Linked DNA regions of Homo sapiens: region 1 is linked to region 2. Evidence: fine-mapped QTL for protein levels in blood plasma. Region 2 holds a variant in brackets. A gene starts in the other region. All regions are shown on one strand. Distances are from middle to middle. Region 1 holds the start of PRSS53 (serine protease 53). Region 2 has its middle 19 kb from the start of GPT2.

What was found. PIP is the posterior inclusion probability: the model's chance that the variant is causal. Protein levels are from antibody-based Olink assays in UK Biobank. Linkage for the fine-mapping came from a reference panel and not from the study's own genotypes, which makes the PIPs less certain.
Region 1: PRSS53 starts here. The variant in region 2 is fine-mapped to the plasma level of the PRSS53 protein (UK Biobank, PIP above 0.99).

What each region holds. Positions count from the first base shown.
Region 1 is chr16:31,078,378-31,094,094 of GRCh38, reverse strand. It overlaps PRSS53 (serine protease 53), which reads left to right and starts at 5,152. Exons shown (of 11, transcript NM_001039503.3): 1 at 5,152-5,343; 2 at 6,269-6,289; 3 at 6,396-6,558; 4 at 7,197-7,462; 5 at 7,604-7,758; 6 at 7,912-8,131; 7 at 8,835-8,985; 8 at 9,071-9,315; 9 at 9,392-9,537; 10 at 9,760-9,976; 11 at 10,286-10,658. The coding sequence starts at 5,286. The coding sequence ends at 10,305. It overlaps VKORC1 (vitamin K epoxide reductase complex subunit 1), which reads left to right. Exons shown (of 3, transcript NM_024006.6): 2 at 674-783; 3 at 2,753-3,241. The coding sequence ends at 2,961. It overlaps ZNF646 (zinc finger protein 646), which reads right to left. Exons shown (of 3, transcript NM_014699.4): 2 at 12,394-15,717; 3 at 9,899-11,124. The coding sequence ends at 11,003. RefSeq lists enhancers at 365-1,073, 4,975-5,475.
Region 2 is chr16:46,857,016-46,872,732 of GRCh38, reverse strand. No RefSeq gene overlaps it. Among named protein-coding and RNA genes, the nearest start is that of GPT2, 19 kb to the left of the region's middle. RefSeq lists enhancers at 2,195-2,800, 2,801-3,407, 8,037-8,166, 12,522-12,816. The variant TTG/G (reference allele first, on the strand shown) is at 7,617.

The DNA of each region.
Region 1 (15,717 bases), 16 Mb after region 2:
GGGCAAAGATAATCTGCCCCCGACTCCCAGTCTCTGATGCAAAACCGAGTGAACCGTTATACCAGCCTTGCCATTTTAAGAATTACTTAAGGGCCGGGCGCGGTGGCCCACTCCTGTAATCCCAGCACTTTGGGAGGCCGAGGCGGATGGATCACTTGAAGTCAGGAGTTGACCAGCCTGGCCAACATGGTGAAAGCCTGTCTCTACCAAAAATAGAAAAATTAATCGGGCGCTATGGCGGGTGCCTTAATCCCAGCTACTCGGGGGGGCTAAGGCAGGAGAATCGCTTGAACCCGGGAGGCGGAGGTTTCAGTGAGCCGAGATCGCGCCACTGCACTCCAGCCTGGGCCAGAGTGAGACTCCGTCTCAAAAAAAAAAAAAAAAAAAAAAAAAAAGAGACTTACTTAAGGTCTAAGATGAAAAGCAGGGCCTACGGAGTAGCCACGTCCGGGCCTGGTCTGGGGAGAGGGGAGGATAGGGTCAGTGACATGGAATCCTGACGTGGCCAAAGGTGCCCGGTGCCAGGAGATCATCGACCCTTGGACTAGGATGGGAGGTCGGGGAACAGAGGATAGCCCAGGTGGCTTCTTGGAAATCACCTTTCTCGGGCAGGGTCCAAGGCACTGGGTTGACAGTCCTAACCTGGTTCCACCCCACCCCACCCCTCTGCCAGGTGGGGCAGGGGTTTCGGGCTGGTGGAGCATGTGCTGGGACAGGACAGCATCCTCAATCAATCCAACAGCATATTCGGTTGCATCTTCTACACACTACAGCTATTGTTAGGTGAGTGGCTCCGCCCCCTCCCTGCCCGCCCCGCCCCGCCCCTCATCCCCCTTGGTCAGCTCAGCCCCACTCCATGCAATCTTGGTGATCCACACAGCTGACAGCCAGCTAGCTGCTCATCACGGAGCGTCCTGCGGGTGGGGATGTGGGGAGGTAACTAACAGGAGTCTTTTAATTGGTTTAAGTACTGTTAGAGGCTGAAGGGCCCTTAAAGACATCCTAGGTCCCCAGGTTTTTTGTTTGTTGTTGTTTTGAGACAGGGTCTGGCTCTGTTGCCCAAAGTGAGGTCTAGGATGCCCTTAGTGTGCACTGGCGTGATCTCAGTTCATGGCAACCTCTGCCTCCCTGCCCAAGGGATCCTCCCACCTTAGCCTCCCAAGCAGCTGGAATCACAGGCGTGCACCACTATGCCCAGCTAATTTTTGTTTTTGTTTTTTTTTGGTAGAGATGGTGTCTCGCCATGTTGCCCAGGCTGGTCTCAAGCAATCTGTCTGCCTCAGCCTCCCAAAGTGCTGGGGGGATTACAGGCGTGAGCTACCATGCCCCACCAACACCCCAGTTTTGTGGAAAAGATGCCGAAATTCCTTTTTAAGGAGAAGCTGAGCATGAGCTATCTTTTGTCTCATTTAGTGCTCAGCAGGAAAATTTGTATCTAGTCCCATAAGAACAGAGAGAGGAACCAAGGGAGTGGAAGACGATGGCGCCCCAGGCCTTGCTGATGCCATATGCCGGAGATGAGACTATCCATTACCACCCTTCCCAGCAGGCTCCCACGCTCCCTTTGAGTCACCCTTCCCAGCTCCAGAGAAGGCATCACTGAGGGAGGCCCAGCACCATGGTCCTGGCTGACACATGGTTCAGACTTGGCCGATTTATTTAAGAAATTTTATTGCTCAGAACTTTCCCTCCCTGGGCAATGGCAAGAGCTTCAGAGACCAGTCCCTTGGAGGGGACCTGTTGAAGCCTTCTTTTTTTTTTTTTTTAAGAAATAATCTTGCTCTGTTGCCCAGGCTGGAGTGCAGTGGCACAATCATAGCTCACTGTAACCTGGCTCAAGCGATCCTCCTGAGTAGCTAGGACTATAGGCATGTCACTGCACCCAGCTAATTTTTTTTTTTTTTTTTTTTTTTTTTTTGCGACATAGTCTCGCTCTGTCACCAGGCTGGAGTGCAGTGGCACGATCTTGGCTCACTGCAACCTCTGCCTCCCGGGTTCAAGCAATTTTCCTGCCTCAGCCTCCTGAGTAGCTGGGACTACAGGCGCGTGTCACCACGCCCAGCTAATTTTTGTATTTTTAGTGGAGACAGGGTTTCACCATGTTGGCTAGGATGGTCTCAATCTCTTGACCTGGTGATCCATCCGCCTTGGCCTCCCAAAGTGCTAGGATTACAGGCGTGAGTCAACCTCACCGGGCATTTTTTTTTTGAGACGAAGTCTTGCTCTTGCTGCCCAAGCTGGAATGTGGTGGCATGATCTCGGCTCACTGCAACCTCCACCTCCTAGGTTCAAGCGATTCTCCACCTTAGCCTCCCCAGCAGCTGGGATTACAGGTGCCCATCAACACACCCGGCTAATTTTTGTATTTTTATTAGAGATGGGGTTTTGCCATGTTGGCCAGGCTGCTCTCGAACTCCTAACCTCAGGTGATCCACCCCCATTGGCCTCCCAAAATACTGGGATTACAGGCATGAGCCACCGTGCCCAGCTGAATTTCTAAATTTTTGATAGAGATCGGGTCTTTCTATGTTGCCCAAGCTGGTCTTGAACTCCTAGCCTAAAGCAGTCTTCCCACCTCGGCCTCCCAGAGTGTTTGGAATACGTGCGTAAGCCACCACATCTGCCCTGGAGCCTCTTGTTTTAGAGACCCTTCCCAGCAGCTCCTGGCATCTAGGTAGTGCAGTGACATCATGGAGTGTTCGGGAGGTGGCCAGTGCCTGAAGCCCACACCGGACCCTCTTCTGCCTTGCAGGTTGCCTGCGGACACGCTGGGCCTCTGTCCTGATGCTGCTGAGCTCCCTGGTGTCTCTCGCTGGTTCTGTCTACCTGGCCTGGATCCTGTTCTTCGTGCTCTATGATTTCTGCATTGTTTGTATCACCACCTATGCTATCAACGTGAGCCTGATGTGGCTCAGTTTCCGGAAGGTCCAAGAACCCCAGGGCAAGGCTAAGAGGCACTGAGCCCTCAACCCAAGCCAGGCTGACCTCATCTGCTTTGCTTTGGCATGTGAGCCTTGCCTAAGGGGGCATATCTGGGTCCCTAGAAGGCCCTAGATGTGGGGCTTCTAGATTACCCCCTCCTCCTGCCATACCCGCACATGACAATGGACCAAATGTGCCACACGCTCGCTCTTTTTTACACCCAGTGCCTCTGACTCTGTCCCCATGGGCTGGTCTCCAAAGCTCTTTCCATTGCCCAGGGAGGGAAGGTTCTGAGCAATAAAGTTTCTTAGATCAATCAGCCAAGTCTGAACCATGTGTCTGCCATGGACTGTGGTGCTGGGCCTCCCTCGGTGTTGCCTTCTCTGGAGCTGGGAAGGGTGAGTCAGAGGGAGAGTGGAGGGCCTGCTGGGAAGGGTGGTTATGGGTAGTCTCATCTCCAGTGTGTGGAGTCAGCAAGGCCTGGGGCACCATTGGCCCCCACCCCCAGGAAACAGGCTGGCAGCTCGCTCCTGCTGCCCACAGGAGCCAGGCCTCCTCTCCTGGGAAGGCTGAGCACACACCTGGAAGGGCAGGCTGCCCTTCTGGTTCTGTAAATGCTTGCTGGGAAGTTCTTCCTTGAGTTTAACTTTAACCCCTCCAGTTGCCTTATCGACCATTCCAAGCCAGTATTGGTAGCCTTGGAGGGTCAGGGCCAGGTTGTGAAGGTTTTTGTTTTGCCTATTATGCCCTGACCACTTACCTACATGCCAAGCACTGTTTAAGAACTTGTGTTGGCAGGGTGCAGTGGCTCACACCTGTAATCCCTGTACTTTGGGAGGCCAAGGCAGGAGGATCACTTGAGGCCAGGAGTTCCAGACCAGCCTGGGCAAAATAGTGAGACCCCTGTCTCTACAAAAAAAAAAAAAAAAAAAAATTAGCCAGGCATGGTGGTGTATGTACCTATAGTCCCAACTAATCGGGAAGCTGGCGGGAAGACTGCTTGAGCCCAGAAGGTTGAGGCTGCAGTGAGCCATGATCACTGCACTCCAGCCTGAGCAACAGAGCAAGACCGTCTCCAAAAAAAAACAAAAAACAAAAAAAAACTTGTGTTAACGTGTTAAACTCGTTTAATCTTTACAGTGATTTATGAGGTGGGTACTATTATTATCCCTATCTTGATGATAGGGACAGAGTGGCTAATTAGTATGCCTGAGATCACACAGCTACTGCAGGAGGCTCTCAGGATTTGAATCCACCTGGTCCATCTGGCTCCAGCATCTATATGCTTTTTTTTTTGTTGGTTTGTTTTTGAGACGGACTTTCGCTCTTGTTGTCCAGGCTGGAGTGCAATGGCACAATTTCGGCTCACCACAACCTCCACCTCCCAGGTTCAAGTGATTCTCCTGCCTCAGCCTCCCGAGTAGCTGGGATTACAGGCATGCGCCACCAGGCCTGGCTAATTTTGTATTTTTAGTAGAGACAGTGTTTCTCTATGTTGGTCAGGCTGGTCTCGCACTCCCGACCTCAGGTGATCTGCCTGCTTTGGCCTCCCAAAGTGCTGGGATTACAGGCGTGAGCCACCATGCCCGGCCAGCATCTATAATATATGCTAAACCTTACCCACAGCTGCCTCTGTCTTGGGGTCAGGGTTCTTGAATGGTCTGGGCCAGCCTGAGTTAGGAGTGGGAAGAGGAAGAGGAGGCACGCGCCAAAGTGTTCTTCCCGCCTGACCGAGTCCTCTGCGCCTATGAGGAAGGTGGGCACCGCTGTCACCCTGTTTCCCAGGAAGCCAGCAGGCCCAGGGAGATACTGGGATTTGCCAAAGGCTCACAGCGAGCAAGCAGCAGTGGGTGCTGGCTCCTCACCACTCAGCCTGGCACACACTGTCTCTGAGCAGACCTGGGAGAAGGCATGTGAAACCCACCTAGCCCTGGCTGGAAGAGAAGTGGGGGAGTGGAAATGAAAAGTGGGGACTGGGAGGAGCTGCCCACGTGCCCTCCATGGTTCCAGGATGGCACTTTCATGCTGGGAGTGAGCTTGCCCTGTGCCAGGCTGTCATTGAGACGTTTTCCATTCAACAACTGTTTCTCAGACAAGGCACAGGCAGGTTAGCTCTCCCAGGCCACTCAAGTAGTAAGGAAACAGATTTAAACCCAGACAATTTGGCTCCACGGCTAAGGCCCAGAGAGGGGTGGTGACAAGCCTAGGGTCACACAGCCACAGCCCCAGAGCTAGGAACTGCTGGCTAGGGCAAGCAGACAGCTGAATCCTAGCCAACTGGAGGTGGAGCAGAGGTGGAGCCAGGGAGACCCAGGTGGCCTCTCTCAGAGTGGAGCACAGGTGGCAGAGTGGCCCGGGGCAGCATGAAGTGGTGCTGGGGCCCAGTGCTGCTCATCGCGGGTGCCACAGTCCTCATGGAGGGTAAGCCGCCATGTGCTGGGGTATGGGTGTGGCCTGGTGGGGGCTCAGGGGCCATCTCTGCCCCAGCAGTCCCTGCTTCTTGGTGGGGGGACCGCCTGTGGGCGACAGTCCACCAGTGGGGATGTAACTCCGTAGGACTCTGTGGGGTGGTATATGTGGCCACCTGTGTCAACATGGATGAGATTTTCTCGGGCCAGCTGCAGTTTGCGTTGGCGGGGCCTGTGGTCTTGTGTGTGTGTGAGGTGCTGCCTGCGTGTGTCCTGTGCCTGCCTCCCCCTCGACTTCCACAATGACGTCAGGCAAACTCTGGGCTCCTCTGGCCTCAGTTTCCCTTTCTTTTCATCCATCCTCTGGGCAGCCTGGCTCAGCTGTCTCATGGGGTGCCTGTGTGCCTGTGAGGGGCGGTGGGCAGGGGCCCTCTCTCTGGCGGGCTCTCAGACAGTTTCTGGGAAGGTGGGGAAGACTGAGTCTCTAGACCAGGGTGAGGTAAGTCTCCATTTCTTGGGGCCCTCCCCACTTGGAAATGATGCAGGCCTCTAATCCTTCCTCTTAGGCCTCTGCTGCTAAGAGGACAATTAAGCTAATGCTCTCTACACACACAGGCCGCCTGGCTGACTCAGTGGCGGGGGCAGGAGTTGGGGGTTCTGAAGCCTGGAGGAGGGCTGGCCTACTCCCAAGCTGAACCCCAAGCCCCAGAGTGCTGAGCACAGCTGAAGGAGAATTAATTACTGAGTGTGCACACTGAATAGGTTCCAATAAAAGCTGTCTCGGCCTCATATAAATATTTTCATTCTGGGAGGGGCTGGTAAGGTAATCAGAGTCACAGGCAAGGACCCTGGGCCCGCCCCCCAGCCCATCCCCTCTCCTCCCCAAAGCTAGGCAGGCCTGGAGTCCCTGCATCTTACCTGTGTCTCTCTCTTCCCAGGTCTTCAAGCCGCTCAGCGTGGTAAGGTCTGGGGACACGGGGCCTAGGTCTTACTTGGGTCTGGGTTGGGACTGGGGTGAGGTCAGGACAGGTATCTGCTGTCAGTGTGACTAACTCCTTTCCACAGCCTGTGGACAGCGTGGCCCCGGCCCCCCCAAGCCTCAGGAGGGCAACACAGTCCCTGGCGAGTGGCCCTGGCAGGCCAGTGTGAGGAGGCAAGGAGCCCACATCTGCAGCGGCTCCCTGGTGGCAGACACCTGGGTCCTCACTGCTGCCCACTGCTTTGAAAAGTAAGTCATGGCTGGGGTCAGGCAGGGTCTCCGGCTCTGGGGAGTGGACAATTTGTCTCAAGCCCCACAAGGCTAGTCCCTGCCTCTAGAGTAATAATAAAGAACCATTTACTGAGAATCTGCCATGTACTGGGTACATATTGTCAAGTTAATTGTAACAACCACCTTTCATGGTAGAAGATTTACAAATCAGAAAACTCAGGTTGCAAGGGAATGACCTCGCTTAAAGTCACAGACTGAGGCCGGGCACAGTAGCTCACGCTTGTAATCCCAGCCCTTTGGGAGGCCACGGAGGGAGGATCGCTTGAGCCCAAGAGTTCAAGACTAGCCTGTGCAACATAGCAAGACCATGTCTCTACAAAAACTGTAAAATTAGCCAGGCATGGTGGTGCACGCCTGTAGTCCCAGCTACTCACGAGGCTGAGGTGGGAGGATCGCTTGAGCCTGGGAGGTCAAGGCTTGTAGTGAGTCATGGTCATGCCACTGCACTGCAGCCTGGGCGACAGGACGAGACCCTACCTCAAAAAGAAAAAGCCGTGGAGTGCTCTCTGCTATCTTCCACCTACCTGTGGGGTCTCCCATGGTGTCACTGTCTACCCTTGCACTCAGCAGCCTGGACCTTGTCCTTCCCCTTCCAGGGCAGCAGCAACAGAACTGAATTCCTGGTCAGTGGTCCTGGGTTCTCTGCAGCGTGAGGGACTCAGCCCTGGGGCCGAAGAGGTGGGGGTGGCTGCCCTGCAGTTGCCCAGGGCCTATAACCACTACAGCCAGGGCTCAGACCTGGCCCTGCTGCAGCTCGCCCACCCCACGACCCACACACCCCTCTGCCTGCCCCAGCCCGCCCATCGCTTCCCCTTTGGAGCCTCCTGCTGGGCCACTGGCTGGGATCAGGACACCAGTGATGGTAAGTGCTGGCCCAGACTGAAGCTCGGAGAGGCACTCTGCTTGCCCAGCGTCACAGTCTCAGCTCCCAACTGTCCTGGCTTCCAGTCTCCCTTGCTTCCCAGATCCCAGACTCTAGCCCCAGCCCCGTCTCTTTCACCAGCTCCTGGGACCCTACGCAATCTGCGCCTGCGTCTCATCAGTCGCCCCACATGTAACTGTATCTACAACCAGCTGCACCAGCGACACCTGTCCAACCCGGCCCGGCCTGGGATGCTATGTGGGGGCCCCCAGCCTGGGGTGCAGGGCCCCTGTCAGGTCTGATAGGGAGAAGAGAAGGAGCAGAAGGGGAGGGGCCTAACCCTGGGCTGGGGGTTGGACTCACAGGACTGGGGGAAAGACCTGCAATCAGAGGGTGTCTGCCATAGCTGGGCTCAGGCATCTGTCCTTGGCTTTGTTGCCTGGCTCCAGGGAGATTCCGGGGGCCCTGTGCTGTGCCTCGAGCCTGACGGACACTGGGTTCAGGCTGGCATCATCAGCTTTGCATCAAGCTGTGCCCAGGAGGACGCTCCTGTGCTGCTGACCAACACAGCTGCTCACAGTTCCTGGCTGCAGGCTCGAGTTCAGGGGGCAGCTTTCCTGGCCCAGAGCCCAGAGACCCCGGAGATGAGTGATGAGGACAGCTGTGTAGGTACGAGTGGGGCATGCTGGGAGTGGGCAGAAGCCACTGTGAAGCAAACCTCAGTTAGGACTAGAGAACTGGCATAGGCATCCACACCGCCGAGCCTAATTAGGGGGCTCTTTCACCCCCTGGGATGGGAACAGCCCTGTTAGGGCTGAGAGGCACAGGCACTTTGGAACTCTACAGGTTTGGAGTTTAGGTGAGAAGAGGAATCTCTGAGACCTGACTTGGGTTTCTGGGGAAGTGGCAGGCTTCCAGCAGGGACCCAGCGAGCCTGCACAGGGTAGGGCTCCCAGTCAGAATTCCGGCATTAAGTGACTGGCATGCAAATTGAATGCAAAGTAATTCCTGGGACGGATATTATGTCTTGATGATAAGAGATGCACTAATGAGTCAGGAATACGGGAGGCAGGCCCATCCTGGAGGGTGCAGACGGGTGGAGCAGGGGAGTGACAAGTAGGGGCATTCCCACGAGGCTGGGACAGGGGTCCCATCAGACCAACAGGGCTAAAAGCTCAGGCCCTGGCTTGCGAATCGCAAGTCTGCCACTTGCCTGTAGTTACAGAGCAAGGAAGTCTCTTAACCTCTCTGGAACTTTGGTTACCTTCAGTAATGAGGGGAACAAAATTCAATTTCAAAAGCTACTGTGAGGATTTGATGGGAAGTGGGAAGTGCTTAGCAAGAAGTCAGATGAGGCACTTATCTGTTTCAGCCTGTGGATCCTTGAGGACAGCAGGTCCCCAGGCAGGAGCACCCTCCCCATGGCCCTGGGAGGCCAGGCTGATGCACCAGGGACAGCTGGCCTGTGGCGGAGCCCTGGTGTCAGAGGAGGCGGTGCTAACTGCTGCCCACTGCTTCATTGGGTGAGTCTTGGATCCCTCTCTGCTGTGCCCCCTGCCCCTGCCGGCAGCCCTGTCACCTGGTGCCGTCCACACTGCCTCTGCACAGGCGCCAGGCCCCAGAGGAATGGAGCGTAGGGCTGGGGACCAGACCGGAGGAGTGGGGCCTGAAGCAGCTCATCCTGCATGGAGCCTACACCCACCCTGAGGGGGGCTACGACATGGCCCTCCTGCTGCTGGCCCAGCCTGTGACACTGGGAGCCAGCCTGCGGCCCCTCTGCCTGCCCTATCCTGACCACCACCTGCCTGATGGGGAGCGTGGCTGGGTTCTGGGACGGGCCCGCCCAGGAGCAGGTAGGTGGGCACAGGGCCAGGGCTGCTGTCCATCCAACCTGCAGGCCGGGGCAGCCAGCTTTCCCTTGCTCCACAGGCATCAGCTCCCTCCAGACAGTGCCCGTGACCCTCCTGGGGCCTAGGGCCTGCAGCCGGCTGCATGCAGCTCCTGGGGGTGATGGCAGCCCTATTCTGCCGGGGATGGTGTGTACCAGTGCTGTGGGTGAGCTGCCCAGCTGTGAGGTGAGCCCCAGGCCCCCACACCTTACCTAACAGGCCCCTGGCATCCCCTCACCCAATAGCTCAAGAACGGACCTTCCAGGCTTGGCCTCTGGACCCACCTCCCACCTGAAACTAAGCCTTTTTGCCAATTAGCCCCCAAACAGCCAGAGGTTCCCTAGCCTGCTCTACCGTCCTGCACAGCTGCCTATAAAAAGTCACCCAGTGTCACCTGACCCCTGACAGGGCCTGTCTGGGGCACCACTGGTGCATGAGGTGAGGGGCACATGGTTCCTGGCCGGGCTGCACAGCTTCGGAGATGCTTGCCAAGGCCCCGCCAGGCCGGCGGTCTTCACCGCGCTCCCTGCCTATGAGGACTGGGTCAGCAGTTTGGACTGGCAGGTCTACTTCGCCGAGGAACCAGAGCCCGAGGCTGAGCCTGGAAGCTGCCTGGCCAACATAAGTATGTGGCCCCGGGGCCTCCTGCCAAACCCTGCCTCTCCAGGACCCTTCTCTCTCCAGTGAGAACGTGCCGTTCTAACCCACTCCAGCTGCCTTGGGTAGGGTGGAGCAACAGGCAGACCCATTTGATTCAGATTCTGGTTCTTTGTCATCGTGTGACTTGGAGCAGGCTGCTCAACCGCTTTGAGCCTCAGTATTCTCATCTGTCATGGCGGCCAAGACAGACCCTGTTCCTTCGAGGAATGGGGAGGGAGGGAGGGACCAAAGCCGTGAGGATGAGGACAACTCCACCCTCCTTCCTTCCCCACAGGCCAACCAACCAGCTGCTGACAGGGGACCTGGCCATTCTCAGGACAAGAGAATGCAGGCAGGCAAATGGCATTACTGCCCCTGTCCTCCCCACCCTGTCATGTGTGATTCCAGGCACCAGGGCAGGCCCAGAAGCCCAGCAGCTGTGGGAAGGAACCTGCCTGGGGCCACAGGTGCCCACTCCCCACCCTGCAGGACAGGGGTGTCTGTGGACACTCCCACACCCAACTCTGCTACCAAGCAGGCGTCTCAGCTTTCCTCCTCCTTTACCCTTTCAGATACAATCACGCCAGCCACGTTGTTTTGAAAATTTCTTTTTTTGGGGGGCAGCAGTTTTCCTTTTTTTAAACTTAAATAAATTGTTACAAAATAGACTTTAGAAAATAAGTTACAAATTGTAGCAAAAGGCTCCCTTCCACAGGCAACTTTCCCACCGGTGGGGCTCTGCATCCGCCTCTCCCTGGTGTTGCAATCTGGCTGCTGAGGGTGGCGCTGAGAAGAGCACGGTGATGAGGCTGGGGGAAGGAGGTCCTTCAAGGACAGGGACGCGAGGAACACCCCACCCCCTCCTTGGGAAAGAAGCCAGATCTGGGTCCTCTTCACAAGGGGAGAGGAGAAGATATGGGGATGCCCGAACTACTCCTGAGAAAATGTGGAGATCAAGCCCCTCCCTGCACGCGCTCCCTCCCCCAGATTCTGATCTTTGGAGACTTGAAGTTCAGAGGGAGAAGCTGAGGTCTGCAGGCCACTGGGGTGAAGGATCCAGGAGTGGGGTCGTGGGGGTGGGTGGAGGGGGCAATGGCAAGTCCCCTCTGCCCGTCACTGGTGCCACTGGGGCTCCTGGGGGGAGAGAGAGAGGAGGTCACCAACTGAGGGGCAGACCCCGCACAGCGTGTACCCCCTCCCAGCCCTGCAGGCCATTCCCCTGCCCCTGGCCCCGGAGGCCCAGATGAGAACAGGGATTCTAGGCCTCCTAATTATTTTCCCAGCCCTGGCAAACTGGCTCCTCCCTCATATCCCTTGAGGTCATGAGAAATCTTCTATCCTTAAAGCCATTCCTTCAGCTTTCAGGTGACTCCCACCTGCCCTCTGCTCTGACAAGGCCTGTCAAGGGCCCACCATCTCAGGGCCACCCACCCTCGGTGGCCACTAGATGGAATGGGTCCGCCTCTACTAGGGGAGGTGGAGAGGCCAGCCCAGGTCCTGCTGAGGGAACCGGCCGCCCCACTCCCTGGCAGCTGCGGCTTCCAGCAGTGCTGGGTGGAGGCGATTCCCCACGGAGATGCCCTCTGATCAGGGATGTGACACGGGCTAATGACTGTTGTTGCTGCAGCTGGGCCTGGACTTCAAGGAAACAATTATCTGTGACTCAGTCCTCCAGTTAAAGGTGTGCAGAGGGTGGCAGGGTGCGCAGGTAGAAAGGGTGGTTTGGTTGGATCCTAAAAAGGCCGTTGGCAGCAGAGGGAAAAGGGGCTGAATAAAGGTTAGAGAAGAGATGGGAGCAACACTGACAGGGAAGGACCAGAGGTCTAGTTTCCAAGGAGAGGAGCAGCAGAGACAAGGCGCAGGGAAAGAGGGACAGGGAGTAGGGTGCCAACCAGTGAACCAGTTTCCGTGGCCAAGTCAGCAGGGAAGCCGTGGAGCCCATGCCCCATCCCTTGTTCCCTGGCACCCGGCCTGCTCCAGGAAAGAATGGAACCTAGACCAAACCAATGGCTTCCTCTTTTTCTCTGGAAGTCATTACTTTACTGGCTGACTCAGGAGGGTTTCCAGACACAGCAGCCAGGGGGTACCCAGTGACCTTCCCCTGAACAGAAAGACCATTCCATTCTGGCTACAGTGTAATGGAGGAGCCCAGGTAGCAGCCTCGGCCTGACCACGCCCCCACGTGCTGCCCAACCCACCCTGCTATTTGTTATACCTGACTTGCGGGTGCTCAGCTCAGCACATCCTCAAGCTACTTCTCTCACCCCATAGCCAAGCCCCCACCCACCTCTTAGAATCCCCGGGGCTCTCTCCTCTCACTCCTTGCTCCCCCACCGACTTTGGGGCTGGACTTCCCCCTCCACTGTGTGCCCACCTCCTCCTGGGACCCTTCATGCCCCCTACCGGAGCCGGCCACCGTCCACTCCTCCTGGTGCTGCTGCTGGTGCTGCACGAAGCTGATTCGGCGGCGGAAGTGGCGGGGACAATGGGGGCAGGTGAAAGGCCCCTCCCGGGGTGCATGGACCCGCCCGTGGCCCTCCAGCCGGGCAGCTGTCCGAAAGGCCTTGCCACAGATGCTGCAGCAGTGGCGCTTGGGGTCCGTGTGGGTCCTGCTGTGGTTCTTAAGAGACAGCAGGTTAGGGAGAAGTTTGGGACAGAGGGAGCACGGGTACAACCCTGTGGTGTGGGCCTTCTGGTGGTTCAGCAGGCTGCCAGCATGGCGGTAGGAGCGCCCGCACTGGGTGCAGCGGAAGGGCCGCTCCTTGTCCTCAGCCGCCATGGACGTCACCGCTTGTCCTCCCCTGGCTCTCTCCACACTCTCTCCTGGGCCTCTGGGGGTTTCTGATGGGGCCTCCTGGGCTTTCCCTTGACCAGGGAGAACCACCTGGTCCTCCCCAGTCCCGGCTTTGGGATCTCTGGCCTCCTCCATCTGGGCTGGCACCTGGCTGTGGCCCCGGGCATGAGCCTGCAGGTGGCTGGCCAGTTCCTGGTGGGACTCAAAGGCTTTGCCACAGTCAGGACAGGCAAAGGTCTGGGCGTCTATGTGGTTGTGGCTGTGGCTCTTTGTGGCCACAGGATTTAAGAACTCCTTGGAGCAGAGCAGGCAATAGTGTCGGTCTGTCTTGTTGGTGTTGTGGTTCAAGAGGCTGCCTGACTGGCAGTAAGTCTTGCCACACTGGCTGCAAGAGGAGTGGCTCCCTGGCTGCAGCTGAGAGCTGTTGTCTCTGTTGTCCCAGCTATCCATGTGACTCAGAGTAGGTCCATTGAGCTGGCAGTCACCAGCGTGGCAAGGACTCCTGTGGACACTGTCCTCTGGCTCCTCTGACCTAGTTAGGAACTGAGGAACCCAGCCTCCACTATGATTCCCCAGTCCCCCACCTACCGGCCACCCACCTGCCTTCCCTGCACCCCAGGACAGTGGCTCTGGGGCTTCTGAGCTTGCTGCCCTGATGGGGCTCTGACTGCGCTCCCCTGGCCTTGGGACTCCATCCTCCAAGTGGGGTACTGGCTCAGCACCACCCAATTGGGTCTCTAGTCCCTGGCTGCCAGTCAGGTTCGCCTCACTGGCCGCTGTGCCATCCAGGCCTCCCTGGCCATTGGCTGGCTCCCTTTCTGTCTCCTCATGCTCCCGCAGGTGCCGCTCCAAAGATCCCCGGCCAGGGAAGCTGCGGCCACAGAGGGCGCAACGCACAGCTGTGCGCCTGGACCGTCCAGCCCGTCGCCGCCGATTCTCTGAGTGCAGCCTCTGGTGGTCCTTCAGGGCCATGCGGTTGGAGTAGGTCTTGGGGCAGGTGGGGCAGCTGTACTGGCCCGTCTCGTGGCTGCGCCGGTGGTTCAGGAGGCTGCCGGCGTGGCGATAGGTCCGCCCGCACTGCCCACAGCGGAAGGGCCGATCTTCCCGAGTCGCCTTTCGGGTGCCCCCACCCCCACGCCGTTCCATGTGGACCCGCTGGTGGCTGGCCAGCTGTTTCCGCAGGCGGAAGGCCTTCCCACACTCGCTGCAGCGGAAACGTCGGGGATCTGCATGGATGCGCCGGTGGTTCTTGAGGGACATGAGGTTTGAGAAGCCCTTGGAGCAGGCCTGACAGCCAAAGTGGCCGGTCTGGTGGCTCTGCCGGTGGTTGATGAGGCTGCCGGCGTGCTTGTAGGATCGGCCACACACCTCGCAGCTGAAGGGCCGCTCAGAGCTGGCTTCAGTCTGGCAGCCCTTCTCGGCAGTCTCCAGCCTGGGCTCTATCTCCTCCCCCTTCACAGTGGTCTCCTCCCACACCTCTTCTTTCACCCTGGCCACTTCCTCCAGGGGCTCCACTTTAAGTTCTTCCTGGAGCTTCTCGACTTCTGCTTGCCCCGGCCCCTCCTCTGCCATGTGCTGGGGCTTGTTGCTGCCTCCTTCTGGGATGGGCCCAACCTGCAGCTCACTGCTACCTGCTGCCTCTGGGATGGGCCCAACCTGGGGCTCAGAGCCTTTGCAGCGAGGGTGGTTCCGCAGATGATTACGGTAGGCAGCCAGGTTGGGGTAGCAGCGGGAGCAGACAGGGCAGAGAAAGTCTCCAGTCTGGTGGATCTTGCGGTGGTTCACCAGGCTGCCCCCATGGCGATAGGTCTTGCCACACTGGTTGCAGCGGAAGGGGCGGGGCTGAGCCTCCAACAAACTTTCCCCACCCTGGATGCAGAGGCTGTCTCCCAAGGGGGTGCCTGCTCCCTCTTGAGACTTGGCATCTCCACCCTCTCCAGAGACAGAATTCACTATGTCCTCCAAGACACTGTCCACGACCATCTCCATGGCATCACCTGCCACTCCCAAGGGGCTGGGAGCCTTGTCTGCAGTAGTCCCAGAACTCTGACTTTGGTGGTGACGCTCCAGGCTCCCCAGGTCATCGTAGGTCTGACCACAGCAGCCACAGATGTGCCCATACCCTGCACTGTCCAGCGCTTCCACCTCCCGCTGCAGCTGATTCAGCAGCTCTGCTTCCGAGAGCTGCAGTGGTGGACTGCGTGCAGGGGCTGCCTCTGCCACTCCTTCCTCTTCCCCCTCCTCCTCTGAGCCCTCAGTCATGCCAGAGGAGCTGTGGGCCTGGCGCCGGTGAAGCCTGTAGCCAGCCCGCCCAGGGAAGATCATGCCACAGAGGCAGCAGAGGAAAGGCTGTGCTGAGGTCGCCTCCCCAGGCCTATGGTTCTGGAAGTGGCTGCGGAGGGCAGGCAGAGAGTCAAACTCCTTCGGGCAGAGGGAGCACTGATAGATGCCTGGTGGGTGGCAGGGCCTGTGGCTCAGCAGGCCAGTGGCATGGGGGAAAGAATGCCCACAGTCAGAGCATGTGTGAGCGGCCCCAGCCTGCCAGCCAGTGACAGCATTGGCAGAGTGGGAAGAGGAGTTGGGTTGGCCAGTGGCTGGCTTCTGGTCTTCATCCACCCCAGTGAGGCTATCGCAGAAGTGAGTGCCACCACCTTCCTCACCTGGGATGTCCAAGTTGTCAAGTAAACTGGCATCCTTCCTTTCCAGTCCTTCCCCAGTGCCTCCGCTCTCTTTATCACCCTGGAAATGGGTCTCATCCCTCTCAAGCCCACATTTGTCCCCTTCAGATTCAGCCTGCAAACAGTCCCCATCACTTTCCAGGTTGCCTTCAGCCCCATGAGGACTTTCCCCTGAAGGGTCTTGGGGAGACTCCAGGCCTTCATTGTCTTCTAGCTCCCGGGTCCAGCTCTCCGCTGCCAGGAGTTTGGCTTCTC
Region 2 (15,717 bases):
ATCCACCTGCCTCAGTCTCCCAAAATGCTGGGATTACACGTGTGAGTTACTGTGCCCAGTCTCTTCTTTGTTTTTGAAGAACAGTTTTGCTGGGTGTAGAATTATCAGTGACAGGTTTTCTCTTTCAGCACCTTACATACAATTGTGTGCCATATAACAACGTTTCAATGACAGAGCATGTATACAATGGTGATCTCATAAGATTATAATACCATATTTTTACTTTGCAAAAGAGAAACACTCCGTCTCAAAAAAAAAAAACAACTTACTTTTCTTCCCAGTCTCAGGTATGTCTTTATCAGCAGCATGAAAATGGACTAATACAGTAAATTGGTACCAGTAGAGTGGGGCGTTGCTGAAAAGATACCCGAAAATGTGAAAGCAACTTCGGAACTGGGTAACAGGCAGAGGTTGGAACAGTTTGGAGGGCTCAGAAGAAGAAAGGAAAATGTGGGAAAGTTTGGAGCTTCCTAGAAACTTGTTGAATGGCTTTGACCAAAAGCCTGATAGCAATATGGACAATAAGGTCCAGGCTGAGGTGGTCTCAGATGGAGATGAGAAACTTGTTGGGAACTGGAGCAAAGGTGACTCTCGTTATGTTTTAGCAAAGAGACTGGCGGCATTTTGCCCCTGCCCTAGAGATTTGTGGAACTTTGAACTCCAAAGAGAGATGATTTAGGGTATCTGGCAGAAGAATTTTCTAAGCAGCAAAGCATTCAAGAAGTGAGATGGGTTCTGTTAAAGGCATTCAGTTTTATAGTGGAAGCAGAGCATTCAAGTTTGGAAAATTTGCAGTGACCATGTAATAGAAAAGAAAAACCCATTTTCCAAGGAGAAATTCAAGCCGGCTGCAGAAATTTGCATAAGTAAGTAGGAGCCAAACGTTAACCCCCAAGACAATGCGGAACATGTCTCCAGGGCATGTCAGAGGCCTTCATGGAAGCCCCTCCCATCACAGGCCCGGAGGGCTAGGAGAAAATGGTTTGGTGGGCCAGGCCCAGGGTCCCCGTGCTGTGTGCAGACTAGGGACTTGGTGCCCTGCGTCCCAGCGTGGCTGAAAGGGGCCAACATAGAGCCAGATTCCAGGACAGGAGAGGAGGATAGGCTTTTTTTTTTTTGAGACAGAGTTTCGCTCTTGTTGCCCAGGCTGGAGTGCAATGGTGTTTTCTCGGCTCATTGCAACCTCTACCTCCCTGGTCCAAGCAATTCTCCTGCCTCAGCCTCCTGAGTAACCGGGATTACAGGCATGAGCCACCACACCTGGCTAATTTTGTATTTTTAGTAGAGACGGGGTTTCTCCATGTTGGTCAGACTGGTCTTGATCTCCCGACCTTAGGTAATTGGCCTGCCTCACCCTCCCAAAGTGCTGGGGTTACAGGCATGAGCCACCACACCCAGCCAAGGATAGGCTTTTGAGGACTGTTTGTGATAGATGATACGGCAGTGATGCAAGCAAGCCCCAGACAGATGAGGCCAGGGGCTGCTGGCCACAGGCTCCTTCCCTACAAGTGCAAAGAAAAGTGCCAGCTCATAAGCTGGGGATGAGCTGGATGTGTTCATCTAGCTGCAAGGCTCTGGTTCCAGCTCCCAGCTTTTCTTTCTTTCCCTTCCTTCCTTCCTTCCTTCCTTCCTTCCTTCCTTCCTTCCTTCCTTCCTTCCTTCCTTCCTTTCTTTCTTTCTTTCTTTCTTTCTTTCTTTCTTTTTTGATGGAGTCTCCCTGTGTCACCCAGGCTGGAATGCAGTGGCATGATCTCGGCTCACTGCAAGCTCCGCCTCCCTGGTTCACGCCATTCTCCCACCTCAGCCTCCCGAGTAGCTGGGACTACAGGTACGTGCCACCATGCCCAGCTAATTTTTTGTAGTTTTAGTAGAGATGAGGCTTCATCATGTTGACTAGGCTGGTTGCAAACTCCTGACCTCACGTGATCTGTCTGCCTCACCCTCCCAAAGTGTTGGGATTACAGGTGTGAGCCACCACACCCAGCCTTAGCTTTTCTTTTTTGCCTTAGACTCAGGTACTCAGCTTGCTGGATTAGATACTTGGTTAGACAGTTTGGCCACCAATGCAGAGCTCTCCTTTCTTGTTGCCTCGGGACACAGAGAGCAGAGGATCTCAGCTTTTGAACAGTTTGGGGAAACAGAGTATACCAAAAAATATGAGAAAAATACAAATTTTACAAAGACCTGACAATCTTGTACTAGTCTAGAGTATCCAGAACCCTATTATGGTCAGAGCCTCTCAGAGATGAAGAAATGCTCCAGCCAATTCCATTGTTTGAGGGTTTGTTGTTGTTGCTCTTGGTTTTTTTTTTTTTTTTTTTTGAGACAGGGTCTCACTCTGTCACCCAAGCTGGAGTTCGGTGGCATAAACACAGGTAGGGCAAGTGATATGGTTTGGCTGTGTCCCCACCCAAATCTTATCTTGAACTGTAGCTCCCATAATCCCCACATGTTATGGGAGGGACCCAGTGGGAGGTAATTGAATCATGGGGGTGGTTATCTCCATGCCGTTCTAATGATAGTAAGTGAGTTCTCACGAGATTTGATGGTTTTATAAGGGGCTTTTCCCCTGCTCTGCTCTGTAGTTCTCCTTGCTGCCACCATGTGAAGAAGGACGTGTTTGCTTCCCCTTCCACCATGCTTGTATGTTTCCTGAGGGGCTTCTCCAGACATGCTGAACAGTGAGTCAATTAAACCTCTTTTTTTTTTTTTTTTTTTTTGAGATGGAGTCTTGCTCCATCGCCATGCTGGAGTGCAATGGCACGATCTAGGCTCACTGCAACTTCTGCCTCCCGGGTTCAAGCAATTCTCCTGCCTCCCGGGTTCAAGCAATTCTCCTGCCTCAGCCTCCTGAGTAGCTGGGACTACAGCCATGTACCACCACACCCAGCTAATTTTTTTTGTATTTTTAGTAGAGACGGGGGTTTCACCATGTTGGCCAGTGTGATCTCGATCTCCTGACCTTGTGATCTGCCTGCCTCAGCCTCCCAAAGTGCTAAGATTACAGTCGTGAGCCACCGTGCCTGACCTAAACGCTTTGCCTTGCCGATGGAGTCTTGCTCTTGTTGCCCAGGGTGGAGTGCAATGGCATGATCTCCGCTCACTGCAACCTCCACCTCCTGGGTTCAAGCGATTGTCCTGCCTCAGTCTCCTGAGTAGCTGGGATTACAGGTGTCCACCACTAAGCCTGGCTAATTTTGTATTTTTAGTAGAGACAAGGTTTTGCCATGTTGGTCAGGTTGGTCTTGAACTCCTGACCTCATGATACACCCGCCTCAGCCTCCCAAAGTGTTGGGATTACAGGCATGAAGCCACTGCACCTAGCCTCTAAACCTCTTTTCTTTATAAATTACTCAGTCTTAGGTATGTCTTTATTAGCAGCATGAGAGCAGACTAATACAATAAATTGGTACCACAGAGAGTGGGGCGCTGCTGTAAAGATACCCAAAAATGTGGAAGCGACTTTGGAACTGGGTAACAGGCAGAAGTTGGAACAGTTTGGAGGGCTCAGAAGAAGACAGAAAAATGTGGGAAAGTTTGGAACTTCATAGAGACTTGGAAGGCTCAGAAGACAGGAAGATGTAGGAAAGTTTGGAACTTCCTAGAGACTTGTTGAGTGGCTTTGATCAACATGCTGATAGTGATATGGACCATGAAGTCCAGGCTGAGGTGTGATCAGATGGAGATGAGGAACTTGTTGGGAACTGGAGCAAAGGTCACTGTTACTATGCAAAGAGACCGGCAGCATTTTGCCTCTGCCCTAGAGATCTGTGGAACTTTGAACTTGAGAGATGATTTAGTGTATCTGGTGGAAGAAATTTCTAAGCAGCAAAGTGTTCAAGAGGAAGCAGAGCATAAAAGTTTGAAAATTTTCCAGCCTGAGGATGCAGTAGAAAAGAAAAACCCATTTTCTGAGGAGAAATTCAAGCCTGCTGCAGAAATTTGCATAAGTAACAAGGAGCCAAATGTTAATGACCAAGACAATGGGGAAAATGTCTCCAGGGCATGTCGGAGACCTTCATGGCAGCTCCTTCCATCACAGGCCTGGAAGGAGGCCTAGGAGAAAAAAATGGTTTCCTAGGCTGGGTCCAGAGCCCCCCTACTGCGTGCAGCCTCAAGACTTGGTGCCCAGCATCCCAGTCACTCTAGCTATGGCTAAAAGGGGTTAAGGTACAGCTTGGGCCATGGCTTCAGAGGGTGCAAGCCAAAGCCTTGGCAGCTTCTGCATGGTGTTGAGTCTGTGGGTGCACAGAAGTCAAGAATTGAGGTTTGGGAACCTCTGCCTAGATTTCAGAGAATGTATGGAAACACCTGAATGTCCAGGCAGAATTTTGCTGCAGGGGTAGAGCCCTCATGGAGACCCTCGGCTAGGGCAGTGTGGAAGGGAAATGTGGGGTTGGAGCCCCCACACAGAGTCTCCACTGGGGCACTGCCTAATGGAGCTGTGAGAATAGGGCCACCATCCTCCAGACCCCAGAATGGTAGATCCACCGACAGCTTACACCATGCACCTGGAAAAGCTGCAGACACTCAACACCAGCCCATGAAAGTAGCCGGGAGGGGGCTGTGCCCTGCAAAGCCAAAAAAGTGGAGCTGCCCAAGGTGGTAGGAACTCACCCCTTGCATCAGCATAACCTGGATGTGAGACATGGAGCTAAAGGAGATCTTTTGGAACTTTAAGGTTTAGTGACTGCCCTGTTGGATTTTGGACTTGCATGGGGCCTGTAGTCCCTTTGTTTTGGCTAATTTCTCCCATTTGGAATGGGTGTATTTACCCAATGCCTCTACCTCCATTGTATCTAGGAAGTAACTAACTTGCTTTTGGTTTTACAGGCTCATAGGCAGAAAGGACTTGCCTTGTCTCAGATGAGGCTTTGGACTTGGACTTTTGAGTTAATGCTGGAATGGGTCAAGACTTTGAGGGACTGTTGGGAAGGCATGATTGCATTTTGAAAGTGAGGACATGAAATTTGGGAGGGGCCAGGGGCAGAATGATATGGTTTGACTTTGTCCCCACCCACATCTCATCTTGAACTGTAGTTCCCATAATCCCCATGTGTCGTAGGAGGAACTCAGTGGGAGGTAATTAAATCATGGGGGTGGTTACCTCCATGCTGTTCTCATGATAGTGAGTGAGTTATCACAAGATCTAATGGATTTATTTATTTATTTATTTACTTGTCTATTTATTTTGAGATGGAGTCTCACCCTGTTGCCTGGACTGGAGTGCAGTGGCGCAATCTTGGCTCACTGCAACCTCCACCTCCCAGGTTCAAGTGATTCTCCTGCCTCAGCCTCCTGAGTAGCTGGGATTACAGGCGCCCGCCACTACGCCCAGCTAATTTTTTGTATTTTTAGGAGAGATGGGGTTTCACCATGTTGGCCAGGCTGGTCTTGAGCTCCTGACCTCATGATTCACCCACCTTGGCCTCCCAAAGTGCTGGGATTACAGGTGTGAGCCACTGTGCCCGGCCGAGATCTGATGGTGTTACAGGGGGCTTTCCGCCCCCTTTGCTCTACACTTCTCCTTGCTGCTGCTATGTGAAGAAGGATGTGTTTGTTTCCCCTTCTGCCATGATTGTAAATTTCCTGAGGCTTCCCCAGCCATGCTGAACTATGAGTCTATTAAACCTCCTTTCTTTATAAATTACCTAGTCTTGGGTATGTCTCTATTAGCAATGTGTAAACAAACTAATACAGTAAACAAAACATGAAACTTCCTTCCTTTTTTTTTTTTTTTTTTTTTGAGACAGAGTCTAGCTGTGTTGCCCAGGCTGGAGCACAGTGGTGTGATCTCAGCTCACTGCAACCTCTTACCTCCCAGGCTTGAGCATTCTCCTGCCTCAGCCTCCTGAGTAACTGGGACTACAGGCATGTGCCACCATGCCTGGCTAGTTTTTGTATTTTTAGTAGAGATGGAGTTTCACTATATTGGCCAGGCTGGTCTCAAACTCATAGGCTCAAGTCAGCCGCCCACCTCGGCTTCCCAAAGTGCTGGGATTACAGACCTGAGCCATCATGCCAGGCTCCTTCCATTTTTAATGTGGCTTTTTCTTAGATGTGCATTCACTCAGTTGCTGGTCTTTTTATTGATTTCCACAGTCCCTATTAAGTTATTTTAGCCAGTTTCTAGTTGTTCATTTAATGTTTCCATAGTGGAAACAAGGACCTGAAGCTTTCTAGTCCACCATCTTGCTGGTGACACTCCAAGCTTGTTTCTTTGTTTGTTTGTTTGAGGCAGAGTCTCGCTCTGTTGCCCAGACTGGAGTGCAGTGATGCAATCAGGGGTCACTGCAGCCTCAACCTTCTGAGCTCCAGCCATCCTCTAGCCTCAGCATCCTGAGTAGTTGGGATTATAGGCATGTGTCACCATGCCCAGCCTTTAAAATAAATTATAGTAAATTCTTCAATATGTATCTCCAAAAATAAGAACATTCTACTCCATAACTACAATACCATTATATTATATGTACACATTTAACAATAGTTTCATAATACTACCCCAGTCCATATTCAAGTTTCCCTAATGTAATTATTATATATTTTATTTCATCATTATTTTTTAAACTTTTTATTATATAACATAACACAGATATTTAAAAAACACCAAACATACATATGGTAAATTATTAAAAATGAACACCCTTACAGCTACAACTCAGGACTAGAGATAGAACTTCCAGCTACCTCTGAAACTATCCACATACCACATCCCAATCATAACCATCCCTCCCTCAAAGTGACCATGATTATAAGCAAGATGCCTGAGTTTTTGCACGTTGAGAGGTTGTTAGTGTTTGTGTCCCTTATACTCAGATACAAAATCTTGGCTCACACTTTCCTTTCTTTGGAGACAGGGTCTTACTCTGTCACCTAGGCTGGAGGGAATGGTGCAATAAGCTCACTGCAGCCTCAACCTCCCAGGATCAAGCAATCCTCCTGCCTCAGCCTCCTGAGTAGCTGGGACTACAGGTGTGTGCCCCAACACCCACCTACTTTTTGTATTTTTTGTAGAGATGGGTTTTCACCATGTTGCCCAGGCTGGTCTCCAACTCCTGAGCTCAAGTGATCCACCTGCCTTGGCTTCCCAAAGTGCTGGGATTACAGGCATGAGCCACCATGCCCAGCCAATATGTAATCTTTAAGAAAGTTGTCTTGAATTATAGGTTTTGAGCTGGGTATGGTGGCTCATGCCTGTAATCTTGGCACTTTGGGAGGCTGAGGCTGGGGCATCACTTAAATCAGGAGTTCAAGACCAGCCTGGCCAACATAGTGAAACCCTGTCTCTACTAAAAATATAAAAATTAGCTGGGTGTGGTGGGACACACCTGTAATCTCAGCTACTTGGGAGGCTGAGGCAGGAAAATCGCTTGAACCTGGGAGGTGGAGGTTGCAGTGAGCCAAGATCACACCACTGCACTCCAGCCTGGGCAATACAGTGAGACTGTGTCTCAAAAAACAAACAAACAAACAAAACCAATTATAGTTTTTGGTATTTGCCACATTGTTCCTTTAATCTGGTTTTCTTTTGCAGTTACTTCTATTTATAATATGTTGGAACTGCCAATCTGAAATAATCAAAAGGATCAGAATCCAGTTTTTTTTTTTTTTTTTTT[TTG/G]AGACGGGTCTCACTCTATCACCCAGGCTGGAGTGCAGTGGCACTATCTCAGCTCACTGCAAACTCCGCCTCCCAGGATCACGCCATTCTCCTGCCTTAGCCTCCCGAGTAGCAGGAACTACAGGCGCCCACCACCACGCCCAGCTAATTTTTTTGTATTTTTAGTAGAGATGGGGTTTCACCATGTTAGCCAGGATGGTCTCAATCTCCTGACCTCGTGATCCGCCTGCCTCGGCCTCCCAAAGTGCTGGGATTACAGGCGTGAGCCACCGTGCCCCGCCCAGAATCCAGTTTTAAAGAGTTTATTAAAGCAAAATGTTGGGAATGACTATCTGGGAGACACAGCGTGTAGGGAAATGGGGTCAGTGTTCTGAAGTTGAGAGTTAAGTTCTTGCTTAAGTAGGCAGAAAACAAAGAAGTAGGATCATTTTCTATATGAGGCTGGTTCATGAGTTAACAACCATTTAGTTACAGCTTCTTTCCTTTTCTATATGGCTTGGTTTCTTTTCTTTACAACTGGTTTTCATTTCCTTTCCTACATAGTTATTTATTTTTGAGACAGGATGTTCCTCTTTCGTCCAGGGTGGAGTACAATGGTGCAAACATGACTCATTGCAGCCTTGACCTCCCAGGTTCAAGGGATCCTCCCACCTGAGCTTCCTGAGTAGCTGGGACTACAGGTGCTTGCCGCCATGTCTGGTTAATTTTTAAAAAAATAATAAGAAGAAATAGGATCTCACTGTTGAGCAGGCTGGTCTCAAACTCCTGGCCTCAAAAAATCCTCTCACCTAGGCTTCCCAAGGTGCTGAAATTACAGGTGTGAGCCACCTCCTGGCCCTCCTTTCCAATTTAAGGTATTTAGCATTCCATTTTATGACAATGTGATGGCCAAAAAGTCTATGTGAGAAAGGTAAGAGGGAAGTCAATCTATAATGAAGATCAACAGTGAAGAGTCTTTCCTGATGCCCTTTAGTCATTTGAAACATTTTACAAAACAATGTAGGTAAGTAATAAGACTAATCTATAATCAGAAGCAAAGGGTTACAGCTGCCTAAGTTACAGTTGCCTGTCAGGTAACATTCCTCTAAGGCTCAAAATAATTTAGAGTTCCAATAGCTTAGATTTTTAATTATTTTCAGAGATCTTATTTGCATGGCTTCAATATTTGTCACTTTTTTGCACATACTTTTTGTTTTCTTTTTTCCTTATTTTCAATTTTAATTTTTTTCACCTTCTATTTCTTATCAGGCAATACTTGTAGCATTTATCTACTTTTTTGTTGTTGTTGTTGAGACAGGGCCTCACTATGTCTGTAGTACAGTGGCACAATCACAGCTCACTGAAGTCTGTGCTTAAGTGATCCTCCCACCTAAGCCACCGGAATAGCTGGGATTATTGGCACACACCATCATGCCGGGCTAATTTTTTTTAATGTTTGGTAGAGATGGGGTTTCACTATGTTGCTCAAACTCCTGAGCTCAAGCAATCTTCCTGCCTCAGCCTCCCAAAGTGCTGGGATTACAGGTGTGAGCCACTGTGCCCAGCTTATTTATTTACTTTTGTTTTCCTTCTGGTTTAGTTTCATTTCTGAAATAAATTTTTTATTTATTACTATTTTTTCCTTGAGTTTTATCACCTAATTGCTATATTTTTCTAGTTCTGATTTACGTATGTATGTTGTTCTTTGTATCTTTCAAAATGTCTTTTAGCTAGTTTCAAAATACTAGTTTATACTGTTTATCTGTTTTGTGGAAGGGAGCTTGGTTGATTAGTGCTGTAGCTTGAATATTTAAACCTCCAAACTTCATGTTGAAATTTGATCCCCAGCCGGGCAGTGGCTCACGCCTGTAATCTTAACACTTTAGGAGGCCACTTGAGGCCAGGAGTTTGAGACCAGCCTGGCCAACATGGTGAAACCCTGTCTCTACTAAAAATACAAAAGTTAGCTGGGCGTGGTGGCTCACACTTGTAATCCCACCTACTCAGTAAGCCGAGGGAGGAGAATCACTTGAGCCGAGATTGTGCCGTGTACTCCTGCCTGGGCAAAAGAGCGAGACTCCGTCTCAAAAAAAAAAAAAAGATATCTGATCCCCAGCGTTGGCAGCAAGGCCTAACAGGAGGTGTTTGGGTTATGGGGGTGGATCCCTCATGAATGTCTTGGTGACCTCTTTGTGGTAATGAGTAAGTTCTTACTCTACTAGTTCCCAAGAAAGTAGGTTGTTATAAAGAGCCTGGTGCCTCCTCCTCTCTCTTCTTGCTGCTCTCTCTCATCATGTGATCTCTGCCCATGCTGGCTGCCCTTCCCCTTCAGCCATGAGTGGAAGCTTCCTAAGGCCTCACCAGAAGCAGATGCTGGCGTCATGCTTCTTATACAGTCTGCAGAGCTGTGAGCCAAATAAACCTCTTTTCTTAATAAATTACTCAGCCTCAGGTCTTTCTTCATAGCAACACAAAAGGACTAAGACAATTGCTTTAAAAGTTGATGTTGCGGCCGGGCGCGGTGGCTCATGCCTGTAATCCCAGTACTTTGGGAGGCTGAGGCGGGTGGATCACAAGGTCAGGAGATTGAGACCATCCTGGCTAACACGGTGAAACCCCATCTCTACTAAAAATAATAATAATTAAAAAAATTAGCCGGGCATGTTGGCGGGCACCTGTAGTCCCAGCTACTCGGGAGGCTGAGGCAGGAGAATGGTGAACCAGGGAGGCGGAGCTTGCAGTGAGCCGAGACTGCGCCACTGCACTCCAGCCTGGGTGACAGAGTAATACTCCGTCTCAAAAAAAAAAAAAAAAAAAAAGTTGATGTTGCCTCAATTGCTCCAACCCCTCCAGTCTTATCAGAGACTCCTTGTACTCACCCATATTGAAGCATGCAGAACACCTCCCACTTTAGCTGCTTTTCTCAGTTTGGCTCACTCTGCCCTCCTGCGAAGACCTGTTTGCTGGCCCCTGAGGTGCCCTATCTCTTCCCTCTGCATTATTCTATATAAATGCGAATATCATATAGATCTTATAGTGGTGGGAATTGTTGTCGTCATGCTCTTACCTTTTACAGTTCATGGGGATACCTTATAATCTGGCTTTGTTGAAAATGCTCTTCATAGGTTTTTGGTTTTACCATCTAGTTGCTCTGCCTTTTTTTTTTTTTTTTTTTTTCCTGCAAGGTGGATTCTAGGAGATCAAAAAACTATACCACTGCTGTGTCTTTCCAGAATTATGAAGGGAAAAAGAACCATGAGAGCTCAGGAAGCAAATTATTATATTTGCCCCCATGGCCAGGCCAGGACCATGTGCTGGAACCACACTCAGATGTGAATAGGATGTGGTTCCCAGGAAGCAAGCTACCTTATATTAGATTCTACACCCAAAGAAGGCAAAACATAACACATGTTTATTACAGTGTTTCATATCAGGTTTTATTTGAGGGTTCCACTACTTTAAAAAAAAGTATAAAAACATTCATCTAAGATAGTGTAATTATATGACTTGTTCTTTAACTCAAACTTTTTATTTTTATTTTTATTATTTATTTATTTATTTATTTTTGAGATGGAGTTTAGCTCTTGTTGCCCAGGCTGGAGCGCAATGGTGTGATCTTGGCTCACCGCAACCTCTGCCTCCTGGGTTCAAGTGATTCCCCTACCTCAGCCTCTTGAGTAGCTGGGATTATAGGCATATGTCATCATGCCTGGCTAATTTTTTTTGTTTTTAGTAGAGACGGGGTTTCTCTGTGTTGGTCAGGCTGGTCTTGAACTGCTGACCTCGGATGATCCGCCTGTCTCGGCCTCCCAAAGTGCTGGGATTACAGGTGTGAGCCAGCATGCTTGGCCTATTTTTATTTTTAATTTTGAGACAGGGTCTCATTGTGTTGTCCAGGCTAGAGTGCAGTGGTGTGATCACAACTCACTGCAGCCTTGACCTCTGGGTTCAAGTGATCCTCCTGCCTCAGCCTCCTGAGTAGCTGGGATTACAGGCACACGCCACCACACCTGGATAATTTTTTTATTTTTCATGTTTGTAGAGATGTGGTCTCATTATTTTGCCAAGCCTCTGGTCTTGAACTCCGGAGCTCAAGTGATCTTCCCATCTCGGTCTCCCAAAAGTGCTGGGATTTACAAGCGTGAGCCACCATGCCCAGCCCCTGACTTCAACTTTTTAAAGATAACTTTCAATTATATGACCTTCCTTCATAAGAGATGAACACATAGATGAGGCTAAAGTCCCCTTGTCTCTGGGTTCCCTTTGGATGCCTGGCTGACTTAAATGCCATCTCAGCAGGGCTGAGGACCATGCACCGGAGTCTGCTGAGGATGGGACATAGTCATTTTAACATTAACCAGAGTGAAATGCAATCATGAAAGTGAATCCTTTAATGCAGTTGTGAGGGATTATCTGTGCTGTTGCCATTCTCCATTTGTACAAAAATGTAAAGCTTGAGAATGGTTGAGGATTTTAGAAACATGTTCCTGGCTCTTTCTCTGTTGTTTAGCATGGTGAGGACCTTGATTCACAGTTTCATTTTTGACTGACAGACTTACTGTTCCATCCCAGCATTGGTAACTAATGGGCTTTCTGGCTCGGTTTTTGCTAGGCTCATTGAGATTGTTTTGATTAGGATGCATTATTATTCAAGTGGCAGAAAACCCCACTCATATTGCCTTTTAAAAACATATACATTGGCTCATGGAGTGTGGAGGTATTTGACACTTCAGGAGTGGCTGGATTCAGGATTCAAATGAGGTGATGGCAATATTGCCCTTCCCAGTCTCAGGGCCCATTTATATTATGTGACATGAGTCCAACACTATGTGCTCTTGGTGATGCCCCAGTCACTGCTGTGGGTCCTGGTCTGCAGCCCAGGTCCCCTTTTTGCTATTTTCTCTGTTTTTGTCGACTTCCCTTCAGGCAGCTTCCCCTCATGTAGTGAAAGGGCTCCAGTAGATCCTTGCTGAACTCCCTGCCATCCAAAATCAGCAGAGAACAGAGAACTTCAGAGGCCTCAGGAAAAGTCTCATCGTGACTCACTGGTTCTCACTGCATCACAGCCCCAGCCTGGGTCCCGCCCACATCACTGAGGTCAGGGCAAGGCTGATGTCCGACTGGCTCATACCTAGTCAAAGTCTCCACTGCTGGTTACCAATGAAGATGGCAGCCTCATCAGAATTCCTTGAATGAAGAGGAAGGGAGGGGGGATGTGACAAGGGATAGCTCAGCATAGCTCAGATGGCACCCCCTCTGAAAGGCAGCAGCCTCAATTTGAAAAAAAAAAAAAAGGGCAGGGCACAGTGACTCACACCTATAATCCCAGCACTTTGGGAGGCCAAGGCTTGCGGATCATCTGAGGTCAGGAGTTCAAGACCAGCCTGGCCAACAAGGTGAAACCCCGTCTGTACTAAAAATACAAAAATCAGCTGGGCGTGGTGGCAGGAACCTGTAATCCCAGCTACTCGGGAGGCTGAGGCACAAGAATTACTTGAACCCAGGAGGGAGAGGTTTCAGTGAGCCGAGATTGCACCACTGTACTCCAGCCTGGGCGACAGTGAGACCCTGTCTCACACACACACACAGGGCCAGGCATGGTGGTTCACACCTGTAATCCCAGCACTTTGGAAGGTAGAAGTGGGAGGATTTCTTGAGCCCAGGAGTTGAGACCAGCCTAGGCAATGTAGCAAGACCCCATCTCATTTTTTTTTTTTTTAAGGGAGAGTGTCGTTCTTTCGCCCAGGCTGGAGTGCAGTGGCGCGATCTCAGCTCACTGCAACCTCCATCTCCCAGTTCAAGCGATTCTCCTGCCTCAGCCTCCTGAGTAGCTGGGATTACAGGCACCCACCACCGCACCCAGCTAATTTTTGTATTTTTTAGTAGAGATGGGGTTTTGCCATGTTGGCCAGGCTGGTCTTGAACTCCTGACCTCAAGTGATATGCCCACCTTGGCCTCCCGAAGTGCTGGGATTACAGGCATAAGCCACCGCTTCTAGCCCCCGCCTCAATTTTTTAAAAAATTGAATTAACGACAATAACAAAAAGAGGCAGCATGTCACAGTGGTTGAAAGTGTGTACTGCGGTGCCAAGAGGCAGCATGTCACAGTGGTTGAGGGTGTGTACTGTGGTGCCAAACCACCTTGGTTCTAACAATGGCTTTACCATTTAGGGTATGTGACCTTGGGTAAGTTACCAATCTCTGTGCCTCAGTTTCCTCACCTGTACAATGGGAGATAATGGCCTCACCTTCATAAAATTATTGACATAAAATTGATTTAATATATATAAAATACTTAGAACTCTGACTGGCATGCAACAAGATCTAGATATCTTTGCCATTATTGAGATTTCATGATCCTTAGGAGAGAATAGGGGAAATTCCTAATGCAGCAAGTTTTCAACAAAGGGCAGTGTTCCTTTGGCCTAGGACAGTGATGCTGTGGCTTGAAGTGACTCCTTTCATCAGTTTACCCATCTTAGTCTGCAATGAGCAACTTCCAGATATCACCCCTTTGCATGTGTTGGAGCTCAGAAAATGATACCCCAAGACGAAGGCTGCAGAAGCAGCCTCAGAGGCTAAAGGTTTTCACTGACCTTCTGCCCTCCTGTCTTTTAGGCCCATTCTCCCCAGGAACTAGTTATAGAAACTAGAATCCCTCTTCCTCAAGGCAGATCATAGACACCAAAACCCTTTTTCCCCCAAGCCAGCCATAAAACCTAAAAATATTCTGTGAAAAAACTGGCCTACCCTGTTTGACTGTAGGTCATAAGATCCCTATTGGAAAGAGGATCCTGCCCCATACCTAGAGGGAAGGAATGCTGCTTGGAGAGGCCAAGAAGAATCCAGACCGACAGATCTTGCTGGGTTTCCCCACTCTGTCTATTAGCGAGCGTTAGCGCAGACCCTTTTTGCCCAATCCTATTTCTACATGGCTGTCCAGACTTTGTCGAATCTAAGCGCAAAAATGGACAACTTCCCCTGCATCTTTGGGTCTTCATTTGGAAGTCTCCTGTGTATACATGTCATGCTTCTTCTCCAATTAACCTACCTTTTGTGAGCTGATTTTTCAGTGAACCTTCCAAGGGTGAAGTAAAAGTCTCCTTGGCCCCCACACACACTGGGGTGTAGTTTGCTTTGAGGCTGGTCTGGGGGTGAGGGCATGGCTGTTGTGGTTTGCCTTGAGGCTGGTCTGGGGGTGAGGGCATAGCTGTTGAATACCATTAAGGGCATTTCACTGTGAGGTTTGATTCACATTGTTCTAGAACTTTAGACTGATTCACAATTTCGCTGCCAGCCGGTGCAGCAGCAACTGCTTCCATCTGTGACGTCGTGCACTGATTTATAAACCATTTATAGCTCTCCTCCCCACTTGACACAGCTGCTCCACAAATGGCTCAGGATTGCAACTAGAGGGGAAATTGGGGACTGCACTTGAACTTTCTCTATAATGAAGTGTAAATTGTCCTTTTGAAAAGTGCTTTCTTCATAAATCCCAGGCCTCAAATGTGGCAATTAAGAGAAGCCTTAAAAGCAAAAGAGGCTTCTGTTCCAGGTCTTTTCAAACCCTAAATGTCAAATTCTCTGTGCCTGTGTCCTGGCCTGGCATCTTATTTCCCTCAACACCCTCCTCCCATCTCTTTCTTAGTAACAATCTCAGATCCTGGCAGCGAATGGCATGCGAAACTGGGAACATTTTTCTTCTACACAGACAGGGTTATATAAATCTTCCTGTTTTAAAGTGATTTCTTTTACCCTTTATTTCTTTTGTGTGCCTTTAGGAGTCTGCTTGAATTCTTAATGGGCTAGATCCCTGGCTGGCTTGTTCTCTGCTTAAAGCAAACCATATCGATGCCAATTACTTTTATCCAGGCATTTGCATGTTTACTAAGGTCCTACTACCAGGCACTGATATCATCAGAGACTGTCTCCATATTCTTTGTATCCAGTCTTTTTTTTTTTTTTTGAGACGGAGTCTCGCTCTGTCTCCCAGGCTGGAGCGCAGTGGCACGATCTCGGCTCACTGCAACCTCCGCCTCCCAGGTTCAAGCAATTCTCCTGCCTCAGCCTCCTGAGAGTAGCTGGGACTACAGGCGCCGGCCACCATGCACGGCTAATT